Linked DNA regions of Homo sapiens: all the other regions are linked to region 1. Evidence: fine-mapped expression QTL. A gene starts in region 1. Each other region holds a variant in brackets. All regions are shown on one strand. Distances are from middle to middle. Region 1 holds the start of SLC16A10 (solute carrier family 16 member 10). Region 2 overlaps SLC16A10 (solute carrier family 16 member 10). Region 3 overlaps SLC16A10 (solute carrier family 16 member 10).

Region 1 (4,246 bases):
AATAGAAAATCAAGGTTAAAAAAAAAGACTATTAATCATATAAAGTTACCCCAAATGATGGGGAGGGAGGTTGATTTAGTAATGGAAATCACTTAGCCCTTGAAGTCAGTTGATATGTGTTTTATTGCCATTCTACTACCCACCAAGACACTTTCACTGAGCTACAGTTTTCTCACCCAAATGGGGTTGACCGCGCTCACCTTGCAGGATAAAGTGAAAGAATTTATGTTAAAGTGTCATGCAGAAGGTCTTAGATTTGTTTTTTGCCTAACCAGCCAAAAAGTCATAATAATGCTCTACAGGGAGAAAACGCTGAATCTGCACCTTTTGTATCTAATTTACTATATGGTTAAAAAAAAATGTCAAAAAACACAACAGGAAGAGGGAAGAAGCAACCCTTCACCTTCCTCATCCTAGTCCCTAATCCGGCTGCCTCCCGTGTTTTCTACATTTAACCCAGAGGGCAAAAAAAGGCGGGGGGACGGGAACGCACGGAACCGTGACTCTTGCAGGGCCCCCTTTGGAACTCCAGTGACCTTCGTACAAATCTCTTTCATTCCTCCAAACTCCACCCCCCGCCCCGCCAACATACGCACACCCCTCTGCGGCCCAGGGAGGCAGGTGAAGAACTACATAACTGGCATAGTCACGAAAGAGACCACAAAAATGACAGGGCGATGACTGGGGTTGAAGGTTCTGGGGTTCTGTTTGTTTTCAAACAATAAAAGGAAGGGCTCCTGTGGACTGTTAGCGTCTGCTCTGCTGAGGGGAAAGGAGGACGATCTCGGCAAGTAAGTTCTGCGACCTGCTTGCAAACACACAGCTCTGCAGCTGGATTCCATATAAAGACGGGCACCCCGAGGCCCCAGAAGCGGCAGGCTCTGTCTGCAACTCGAAAGACCCCCCTGCTCGCACCCTCTGGCACAGGGACCCACCGACATGCACACTCGGAGGCAGACACAGCCCACACGCGGGATGCGCTCGGGGGCCCCACGCGGGTCGCCCAGGCTGGCCTCGGCGGGCGCCGCGCCTCACCTGTCTTAAAGACCATCTTGTCATCGTCTTTGGAGCCGAAGGTTTCCAGCATGGACACGAAGAGCACCCCGCAAGCGTTCTGGATGCCGAACACCGACCCGTTGCACCACATGGCCGCCAGCATCACCAGCCAGCCCCAGCCGCCCTCGGGGGGTTCGGGGGGCTCATGGGGCTCCGCGGTCGCCGGCCCCGCCAGCTCCACCTCCACCTTCTCGACAGCCGCCTCGGGGCTGTCCGAGGGTCCCGGGCCGGGCGGCGGAGCGGCCCCCGTGGGCGCGGGGCCGAGCGGCTGCGCCTCGCTCGTGCCCCGCGCGGAGTCCGGCTCCTCCTGGGAGAGCACCATGGCCCGAGGCGGGCCCCTCAGGCGCCGGAGAAGCGCGAGGGACGCGAGTTACCAGCGGGCTCCCGGAGGAGCTGCGGGGCTCCTGGCGGGCTAACGAGGCCGAGGCGAGGGCGGCGGAGCCCCTGGCGGGCGGGCGGGCTGGCAGCGCGCAGGCGGCCAGCGCGCAGGCGGCCGCGAGGACAGCTGGCGCGCGCGAACACCTCGGGGATCGACACTGAAGCCTCTAGGTCACAGCCCCGCACCCCCGACTGAGCCCACTGCCAGCCGCCGGTTCTTAAAAGCACCCCCCGCCCCGCCGGCTGGGGGCGTGGCCGGGAGCGGGACGTGCCCCCACAGCCTCCAGATGATTGGGCCTCGGAGAGCGGAGGCGGGGCGCCCCGCGGCGCGCGGCCCCAGGTGCCCGCGGCAGACGCTGTCTGCGCGCGCGTCTGCGACGGGGCCTCCTCCTGCTCAGAGAGGGGCACAGATGTGTGGGTCACCCCGCCTCAAAGCATGAGCAGAAGGGGCGCGTCTCCTAGGTGCGGGCGCGGTGGGCCTTCAGGAGAGCCACACTGGATCGTTAGCCTCAACTCACCGACACAGCGTCACAGTCACACTAACATTGTCTCGATTGTGTTTGTTTTATGTTTTGGCATTCACCTCTCAGTACTAATTATAATATGTAAGATTCGTTATGCCACCTGGCTTCTTAAATAAGTCATCTGAAGGATCAGAGCCCTTATTTTATTACTTCAGTTCCATTCTCTTGCATTCGTATACAATTTCCTTATGAATATTTGGCACACCAAAGATGCTTATTTTCAGTCCTCACTGGACTGCAATTCCGAAGTCTTCAACCAACAAACATTTTTAACAGACAGCTAGAAAGCATTACTTTTCAACTACATCAGAGTCGTTTTCACTTTAAACAAAAACTAAAACCTGTATTCAACTCCTCTGTCTCCCTGAAGCATGGAGTGCCATCCTATGTAAAAGAAAAGAAGAGTAACCTGCTATGCAATATTGAGGATGCTTCTTAATTTCTGTTATTCGTATTCTTCACTTCAATCAAAGTCAAAATATGCTAGTTACTTGATGTGCCCACCACTGTGATAGAGTACACAGATGAGTGCGATTGATCTCGTTTCTGCCTCTTATCAGTTGATAAACTGGTAGGAAAAAAGAGTCCTGGGAGAGACTAGGAGGCTCAGATGATGTGTTATAATACATGTACAAAAGAGAGAGATGAGATAGTCCCTTAAATTCTCTCCAAACACTGTAGAAGAGCCTCTACAGCAAACAGCCTTTGGCCGAAGCCCTGATTCATACATACGACTTCAGTGGGTCAAGACAGGAAAAGAGCATTCCAGGTAGAGAAAATAGCATAAACTAAGGAAAGCAAGCCGTGCTTGGTTGTGGAATGGGGAACATAGCTCAAGTGTAATCTGCCTTAGAAATGAGGGTAAAATAGTAAACAAAGGAATAGGCACATAAGTGCACAAAAATGTATGTATGAAGATGATACCCCAGTATTGTTGGAAATAAGGAAAATTTGGAAGTATAATGTACATTGGTAGAAGACTGATTAGATACTTACTTTAAAACCTCTAAAAGTTCTGAAGGTCATCTGTATTTATTGACTTTGAAAGTTGTCCACAACATATTATTGGGCAAAGAAAGCACATCGATTATATATTTGCATGCACACAAACAAACACATATGTAAGAATTATCCACGAGTCAGTACTGATGTAAGTAAATGATTAAATAAATAATGAGGAGAGAATAGACAAATCTCTCCTGCAGGAAATGTAAATACTTTATGAACATACTCCCTCCCTCATGGAGGTGAAGTACAATGGTTTACTCTTTAAGTGTGGGTATGCGTAGTAACTTTCTTCCAAAGAGTATAGGATGGAAAGGGGGAGTGGGGGGAAGAAATAACTTTAGGGTGCAAAAAATGGCACACAGTACCTCAACTAGATGATAATGTATCCCCGATATGATGTGATGAAAATGGTACTTTACCTCTGTGGTCTTCCTGCCAAAACCCATAATCCCTGGCTAACCATCAGAAAAACATTAGACAAATCCCAATCAAGGACAGTCTACAAAATACCCATTAAGTACTTTCATTACTGTAAAAGTCATCAAAAACAAGGAAAGTCTGAGAAACTGTCACAGTAAAAAAGAGTCTAAGAGGGCTGGGTGTCGTGGCTCATGCTGGTAATCCCAGCACTTTGGGAGGCCGAGGCGGGCGGATCACTTGAGGTCAGGAGTTCGAGACCAGCCTGGCCAATATGGCGAAACCCCATCTCTACCAAAAATACAAAAATTAGCCAGGCATAGTGGCGTGGGCCTGTAATCCCAGATACTCAGGTGGCTGAGGCAGGAGAATCGCTTGAACCCAGAAGGCAGAGGTTGCAGTGAGCTGAGATCGCGCCACTGTACCCCAGCCTGGGTGACAGTGAGATTCCAACTCAAAAAAAAAAAAAAAAGCCTAAGAGACATGATAACTAAATGTAATGTGATATCCTGGATGGATACTGGAACAGAAAAAGGACATTAGATTAAAAGTAAAGAAATATGAACAAAATGTCGGCTTTAGTTAATAATAATGTATCAACATTGGGTCATTAATTGTAACAAATGAGGCAAGGTGTGGTGGCTCAAGCCTGTAATCCCAGCACTTTGGGAGGCTCAGGTGGGAGGATGGCTTGAGGCCAGGAATTCGAGATCAGCCTGAGCAACATTGCTGAGACCAGCAACCAGGCTGGTCTCGAACTCCTGGCCTCAAGCAACATAAGTAATAATCCATCTCTTTAAAAAAAGAGTGTTTACTTCTAACTACCAATAGGCTATTGAATGGAGCAGAGTTTTAGGTGTCCA
Region 2 (4,246 bases), 72 kb before region 1:
GTACACACTCCCCATTCTGAGTCCATAAAAAGCCCCAGACCCAGACACAGAGAGAGAGAGAGAAAAACCACCTGACTGTGGGGGTGAGGGAGCACCCCGTGTCCCCTTAATGCTGAGAGTTGTTCCATAACTCAGTAAAATTCTTCTCCACCCATCCTTACACTTCAAATTGTCAGCATATCCTCCTTCTTTTTAGATGCATGACAAGAGCTCGGGAACCGCTGAACGTCAGTAGAAGCTATAGCACAGGTGGACCAAGTGAGCGGGGTGCCTTGGCCCATGGCCGAGTGAGTCCCTGGTTGGCAAAGTAGCTGAGCAAAATCCTGTGTCACCAGCACTTTGGGAGGCTGAGTTGGGCAGATCACCTGAGGTTAGGAATTGAAGACCAGCCTTCCCAACATGGTGAAACCCTGTCTCTACTTAAAAAAATACAAAAATTAGCTGAGCATGGTGGCACATGCCTGTAATACCAGCTATTCAGGAGGCTGAAGCACAAGAATCGCTTGAACCCAGGAGGTGGAGGTTGCAGTGAGCTGAGACTGCACTACTGCACTCCAGCCTGGGCAACAGAGTGAGACTCTGTCTCAAACAAAAGAAGAAAATACCGGAGAAAATCTTTGTGATCTTGGTTTAGGCAAAGATTTCTTAGATATAACATGAAAAACCTAAATGCCCATACAAGAAATCAGTACAAGAAAATGTTGATAAACTAAACTTCATCAAAACTAAGAACTTCTCTTTGAAAGACACTGCTAAGAGAATAAAAAGACAAGCCACAAACTGAGAGAGAAGATTTGCAAATTACATATCTAGTAAGAACTTGTATATAAATTACATACAAAATTCTCAGAACTCAATAAAAACCAAGCAACTCAATTTTAAAAATGGGCAAAAAATTTGAACTTTACAAAAAAGATATATAAATGGAAAATATGCCTATGACACCCAATATCATTAGTCATCAGGGAACTGTCAATTAAAACAATGAAAAACCACACACATCACAGGATATCTAAAAATGACTAATCATACCAAGTGTTGGTGAGGATGTAGAGCAACAAGAACTTTCACATACTGCTACTGGGAATATAAAATAGTACAAACACTTTGGAAAGCAGTTCAGGAATTTCTTAAAAAGTTAAACATAAACCTACCATATGACCCAGCTATTCCTCCATTCCTAGGGGGTTCCCAGCCCCTGAGCCTAAGAGAAACCAAAGCATATGCCTATACAAAAACTTATATACAAATGTTTATAGCTGCTTTATTTCTAATAGTCAAAAAAACAGAAAGAACCCAAATGTCTATAAATAAGTGATTAGATAAACAAATTATGGTATATCTATGTAATGGAATACACAGCAATAAATAAGAGTGAACTACTGATAAATACAACAACATGTACATGCACCACATTCTAGTAATTCCACTCCCAGGTATGTACTCCAGAGAAATTTTGCACATGTGCACAAGGAGAAATGAGTAAGGATGTTCACAGAAGCATCTGTAATAGTAAAAATCTGGAAATAACCTAAATTGCCCATCAGCGGTAAAATAAATGAAAAAATGTTGGTATTAACATACAGTGGAATATAGATTCACACATTTGTAGTCATAGCATAAAACATGATGGGAATAATTAAAGCAAATGTGGGATAGTGATTACCTGTGGGAAAGTGTGCATGAAGGGGATTAGGAATGGAGAAGTGTACACGGGACCACAGCTGGGCCTGTAATGTTTACATCTTTTTTTTTTTTTTTTTTTTTTTTTTTTTGAGTCAGGGTCTTGCTTTGCCACCTAGACTGGAGTGTAGTGGCAGGATCACAGCTCACTATAGCCTCTGGTCAATTGACCCTCCCACCTCAGGCTCCCGAGTAGCTAGAACTACAGGTGCAGGCCACCACACCTGGCTAATTTTTGTAGAGACAGGGTTTTGCCTTATAGCTCAGGCTGGTCTCTAACTCCTGGATTCACGTGATCTGTCCTCCTTGGCCTCCTAAAGTGTTGACATTACAGGCATGAGCCACTGTGACCAGCCTACATCTTTTCAAAACTGAGAATGTTAGGATCTGAGTAAAGAGTAGTGGATACGCAGAAAATACATTTGTTATGTCATTCTCTAGATTTTTGTTTGTTTAAAATATCGAGTAAATACAAAAAAATACTAAAGTTAATTTTCAGATCTTCGAAAGGTTATTTACAGCAGGGGTCCCCAGCCCCCGAGCCTGTTAGGAACCAGGCCACACAGCAGGAGGTGAGTGGTAGGTGAGCGAGCATTACCACCTGAGCTCCACCTCCTGTCGGATCAGCACAGCATTAGATTCTCATAGGAGCACAAACCCTATTGTGAACTGTGCATGCAGGGGATCTAGGTTGCACATTCCTTGTAAGAATCTAATGCCTGATGATCTGAGATAGAACAGTTTTATCCTGAAATCATTCCCCCTCCAATTTGTCAAAAAATTGTCCTCCA[T/A]GAAACCAGTCCCTAGTGCCAGAAAGTCTGGGGACTGACGATCTACAGGAGGTAAAATCACTTTACCAGAAAAAAGCTAAAAATAGGGAAAATGTGCACTGTAATTGTCATGGCAGAAAAGTAATAAAAATAAATAAATATTAATAATAGGGAAATAATTTCAAACTCTTTTCATTATAAAGTTCACTTTAAAAATGACAGACTACATTTTGCAAAAATAATCTTAAAACCAAACATCCCATTCCTCTGAAATTAAAACTTCTCTTCACATTATATTATTAATAGCTCTTTTAAAACATTAAATAAAAATACGATAGAATAGCTCTCTGTTATGCCCTCTCATTTCTGCATGCTGATAGCATTTCATGATGCTTTCAAATAAGAAAGTCATCTTTTCTGGCTATAAGTCAACATTCGCAACTAGGATCACAGTTCTTTTTCTTTTTTTCTTTTTTTTTTTTTTAGTCGGATATAGCATTGTAAGAAGGATCATAGTACTGATACTCTGAAATATTTACCTACATAAACTATTTGGAATTCTTCTGCATGGGAGATTTGTCTAGTCTCCCACATTTATGTATTTATTCAATCACTTGTTTATATCATTATGGACTCATAGATATTTATTTTATACTTTGATTTAAATTCAAATACTTCTCTGTGGCATAGATCTGCCTTAAAACCACAAGTGGTCTGAAGTTATACTCTGTGGTTTCACTGATACTATTTAGCTAACTTGTATCTTCAATTCTTGGAAACCTCATTCTCAGATGAAAACACCAAGTTTGGCCAGGCACGGTGGCTCATGCCTGTAATCCCAGCACTTCGGGAGGCCAAGGTAGGCGGATCACGAGGTCAGGAGTTAGAGACCAGTCTGGCCAACATAATGAAACCCATCTCTACTAAAAATACAAAAAATTAGCTGGGCGTAGTGGCAGGTGCCTGTAGTCCCAGCTACTCAGGAGGCTGAGGCAGGAGAATCGCTTGAACCCGGGAAGTGGAGGTAGCAGTGAGCCAAGATCATGCCATTGCACTCCAGTCCAGGTGACAGTACAAGACTCCATCTCAAAAACAACAACAACAACCAAGTTTTATCTCAATAGTACGATCAAAATGTGAAACTTTCCTACCTTTTAAAAAATAAACTTTTGTCTGGGCGCGGTGGCTCACGCCTGTAATCTCAGCACTTTGGGAGGCCGAGGCAGGTGGATCACCTGAGGTCAGGAGTTCAAGACCAGCTTGGCCAACATGGTGAAACCCCATCTCTACTAAAAATATAAAAATTAGCTGGGTGTGGTGGCGCGTGCCTGTAATCCCAGCTACTTAGGAGGCTGAGGCAGGAGAATCGCTTGAGACCAGGAGGTGGAGGTTGCAGTGAGCCGAGATTTCACCACTGCACTACAGCCTGGGCAACAGAACAAGACTCCGTCTCAAAATAAAATAAAATAAAATACACTTTCATTTTAGAATAGTTTCAGATTTACATAACAATTGTGAACAGTACAGGGAGTGCCCATATACCTCACATCCAGTTTCCTCTATTATTAACATCTTACGATAGTATGTTACATTTGTCACAATTAATGAACTACTATTGATACATTATTAGTAACAAACATCTATATTTTACTCAGATTTCCTCAGTTTTAACTAATATCCTTTTTCTATTCCAAGATCCCATACAAGATACCACATTATATTTAGTCGTCATATCTCCTTAGTCTCCTCTTGACTGTGACAGTTTGCCAGACTTTTCTTGTTTCAGATGACCT
Region 3 (4,246 bases), 140 kb before region 1:
ACCTATAGGAGACTCAGAACTTTCAGTCCTAAAAGCCTGATACTATGGTAATTGGTATGTCTCTTAAATTAGGTTTTCGGTATGAATTAGAATTCTTCTATTTTTTTCTATAAAAATTATTTTCTGGCCAGGCGTGGTGGCTCATGCCTATAATCCCACACTTTGGGAGGCCAACGTTGGCAGATCACCTGAGGTCAGGAGATCGAGACCAGCCTGGCCAACATGGTGAAACCCCCCCTCTCTACTAAAAATACAGAAATTAGCCGGGTGTGTTGGTGGGTGCCTGTAATCTCAGCTTCTCGGGAAGCTGAGGCAGGAGTATCACTTCAACCCGAGAGGCAGAGGTTGCAGTGAGCCAAGATCGCGCCATTGCACTCCAGCCTGGGTGATAAAAGTGAAACTCCATCTCAGAAAAAACAAAAAAAACCCAAAATTTTCCTCAGGAGAATGAATTTTATCCTGCTTAAGATCAGTAACAATTGGTCATATCTATTCTCTCCTCAGTTCCCTCAAAGGTCTTCTAATGGCCTACACATTCTGACATGTAAATACTTTTTGGATTAAATGACATATCACAAATGCCAAGTTCTTGAGTTTAATGTATTAAATCTCATTAGTACTATTAAACATAAATAATGATTTGCTTTGTAGTTAAGGCTCATCAAATCATAAACATCTTCTGATGGCAGAGTCAGTTTTTATCCAAGCAAGCAATCCACAGTAATGGGACTGCTTTTTTTTTTTACAGCCTGGTTCTTGACTATCCCCTAAAATTGTCAGTCAGTAGAAGCTCACTGAGTATCATCTGAATTTAGTAAGTGTAATCAATGTAAGAAAAATGGCAATGTAAGTCAAGTACAAAAAAAGTAAGCGTCAAATAGAAGTGGTTTTTAGACTATCTAAAGCTTTTGGATCATTTCTATCCCTGTTCCCTGCTCCGGGGAAATAACAGTACCCAAACGCATGTAGAATACAGATATGCAATGTAAAAAGCACACAGCTTATTTCTTTTATTCAACATAAACTATTCCTTTCGTTTCAATAATTTCCCCTCCCCCACCCTCCAGAGAATTCCACAAACATAACCACAAAGCCTTATAGGAATTTGCTAAAAAGTTTTTATTGCATTTACTAAGAGTATCACATTTTTCCACAGTAAAATAATCTTATCCTCCAAGCAATTGTAAAGATCTTTTCATTAAAAAGATTTTGGTTATCTATATTAAATTGCACATTATTAAAAAAATTGTAAATTATAGTCTTCAAAAAGAAGCATACATTTTTTAAAAAGTACTAAAATACTGCATACTGGTCAAATCCAGCATGAGCATTCAGCATAGTGATCTACATTTGAACAACTATTGTGCCAAAAATGGCCCCAGGGTAGGTTGGGAGAGAAGCAGAGCTGCACTGCGGTGTATAGCATACACTTGGAATAATTTGGCTTTGGTGTCTAAGATAAAGTGTGTTTTTCTAACTCAAAATATACAAAATAATTAAAAAATTAATTTTCAAATAAACATTAAAATAAGTCCACATGAACAATGTCATATTATACTAGGAGATACTTAAAATATCCACACTCTCTTTCAGTAATAACTACAGGGTTCAATTTGTTGTAGCTATAACTTTAAGGCTAAAATAAACTGGTGGAAGAACAAAAGCAAAATGCAACTTTTATCAAGCATTGTGCAATGCCTCTACAATCTTACACATCTCAAACCACATTAAGTTACATCAGAAGTTATTATTAGAGTGATGTTTAATCTCACCCTAATGTAACTTCTGATTAGCAAGCTTCCATTCTCTCTGCCAAATATAACTCATGTTAACGTAGAAAAGTGTTATCATTAGTTACCAGAGCAAATCCAGTGTACTGGATTGTGAATGCATAGTCTTTCTAATTAGGAAAATGAGAGTGTGTATTGTCTTCTTAATTTACATTTATAAAATCCTCATAAAATACAGTTAAGTCAGGGTCTTTTAAAAGAGAAGAATTCAACTGAAACCTGTCATTCTCTAGCCGGGCATGGTGGCTCATGCCTGTAATTCCAGCACTTGGGGAGGCTGAGGCAGGTGGATCACTTAAGGCCAGTCTGGCCAACATGGTGAAACT[C/A]CATCTCTACCAAAAATACAAAAATTAGCCGGTGTGGTAGTGGGCACCTGTAGTCCCAGCTACTCAGAAGACTGAGGCACGAGAATCACTTGAGCCCGGGAGGCGGAGGTTGCAGTGAGCTGAGATCGCGCCACTATATGGAGCCTGGCAATAGAGCAAGACTCCATCTCAAAAAAAAAAAAAAAAAAGAAACAAAGAAAGAAAAAGAAACCTGTCATTCTCAATTCATCTGAATCCTACCTACAGAACATTAAAGAGACCCGTATGTCTCGAACTCCTGGCCTCAAGCAATCCGCCTGCCTTGGCCTCCCAAAGTGCTGGGATTACAGGTGTGAGCCACGGCGCCTGGCCAAGGAGACCCATATGTTATTTTACTTAGGTGTTACACAATCAGACCAACGATGGTGCTGAGAGCCCTTGATAAATCATAGACCTGAGATTTGCTGACAGTGACCCAGCCGCAGTACTTATTGTTTATGTTAAATCTGAAAGACAAACAATGATACTTTCAGTGATAAATTTCAAATAATTATAAAAATATAACTGTGCAAATAACTCATTATCCATGTTTTAAGATTGATGACTCTCAAAACTCTGATTTTAGCCTGAAAGTTGCGAAATAGTTTCAAATGTCCAAATGTCTACATAAGCCAGCTCAATAGGAAGCTATTATATATAACTTTTTCACATTGCCTCAAAGTTACAGAATATATTTAAATCCCTCACTTTGTGCTAGAAACATTGACAAGGGACTTTTTCTTTAAAATTATTACCTTGGGAGGTTGTGTTCATTAGAACATTCTCATTTGGTGATCATTTTCTTGTGAGTTTCGTAATTTAAAGTCTTATATGTTAACAAAAATTGCATACCTCTAACTAGATACTGGAACTCAATAATCACTGTATAGGTGAGCTTTTTTCCTCAGTCATGTATATAACATGCAACATGCATAACGTTGCTGGCTGTATACATTTTCTATTGTGTTGTATATTAATATTTTTAAAAGAAAAATAATTTTGAAAGGAACATGAAGTATAGCACCAATCTTGATCTAATAATCTTTGGTAGAAAAAAAAGAGGCACCAACTATACAGTCTGTTCATAGTCCAGGGTCAAAATGCAGCACTATTTTTTTTTTTTTTTTTTTTGAGACAGAGTTTTGCTCTTGTTGCCCAGGCTGGAGTGCTATGGTGCAATCTTGGCTCACTGCAACCTCCACCTCCTGGGTTCAAGCAATTCTCCTGCCTCAGCCTCCCGAGTAGCTGGGATTACAGCATGGAGCCACCACGCCCGGCTAATTTTGTATTTTTGGTAGAGATGGGGTTTCTCCATGTTGGTCAGGCTGGTCTCCAACATCTGACCTCAGGTGATTCGCCTGTCTCGGCCTCCCAAAGTGCTGGGATTACAGGCATGAGTCACCGTGCCCGGCCCAGCACTATTAATAACAAACCCTCCATTCCTGAAATAACATTTCAATATAGACTGAATTATGAAAGATACTTTGACTCATTAGGGAAGATCACAGTAGAAAGGTTTTGTGTTTACACATTTAAAATATTTAACAAACTGACTCTTCTAATGACGGATACTGAAAAATATCTAGTAAAGAATAAAAGTCATACATCACAGGCTCCAAAATAGTATTACCAATCTAATTTGAGTTCTAAGTGTTATTTTATATTGGTAGTTCCTATCGCATACATGTTTAGGGACATTGAACTCCAAAATACTCTTTTTATAGCACTCATATTGAAAGGCAAAGCAACTTCTTTGGGTAGACTGGGTTAACTCCTACACTATTGCCACACTCAAGAACAGCATTTTAAAAAACTCCAGTGAGTCAAAAATTCATTGTCCCAGTCCTTGTTCTACTAGGAAGGAGTGTCTCTTACAGGAGTTTAATGTGTAAGTTGTCAGGTTTGGGCACAGCTGTACAATCTGTCATCACTGATCATCTACCCTCTTGCCAATGAAAACAAAACTTTTTCATAATCAAGCTTCCAGTGTAACTTGAAAAGCCACTGGCGAAGCATTCTAAGTGTTCATTAGAATCTGAGTGTGTCTAATTTAGAATCTAAGTGTATCTAGATTCTGAATTTCTTCAGGTTTTTCTTTGTCAGATCCACAGG

What was found. PIP is the estimated chance that this variant, and not a neighbour inherited with it, causes the effect. A credible set is the group of variants that fine-mapping cannot tell apart.
Region 2: its variant is the best candidate, but not a certain one, in a credible set for the expression of SLC16A10 in whole blood (TOPMed, PIP 0.52).
Region 3: its variant is the best candidate, but not a certain one, in a credible set for the expression of SLC16A10 in whole blood (TOPMed, PIP 0.51).

The regions. Positions count from the first base shown.
Region 1 is chr6:111,084,885-111,089,130 of GRCh38, reverse strand. It overlaps SLC16A10 (solute carrier family 16 member 10), which reads right to left and starts at 1,628. Exons shown (of 6, transcript NM_018593.5): 1 at 1,036-1,628. The coding sequence starts at 1,378. RefSeq lists silencers at 1,058-1,237, 1,268-1,947 and an enhancer at 745-1,245.
Region 2 is chr6:111,156,597-111,160,842 of GRCh38, reverse strand. All of the region lies in intron 1 of SLC16A10 (solute carrier family 16 member 10), which reads right to left. Among named protein-coding and RNA genes, the nearest start is that of SNORD166, 45 kb to the right of the region's middle. The variant T/A (reference allele first, on the strand shown) is at 2,475.
Region 3 is chr6:111,228,049-111,232,294 of GRCh38, reverse strand. It overlaps SLC16A10 (solute carrier family 16 member 10), which reads right to left. Exons shown (of 6, transcript NM_018593.5): 6 at 1,101-4,246. The region is part of intron 2 of SLC60A2-DT (SLC60A2 divergent transcript); the gene reads left to right. Among named protein-coding and RNA genes, the nearest start is that of SLC60A2-DT, 29 kb to the left of the region's middle. The variant C/A (reference allele first, on the strand shown) is at 2,117.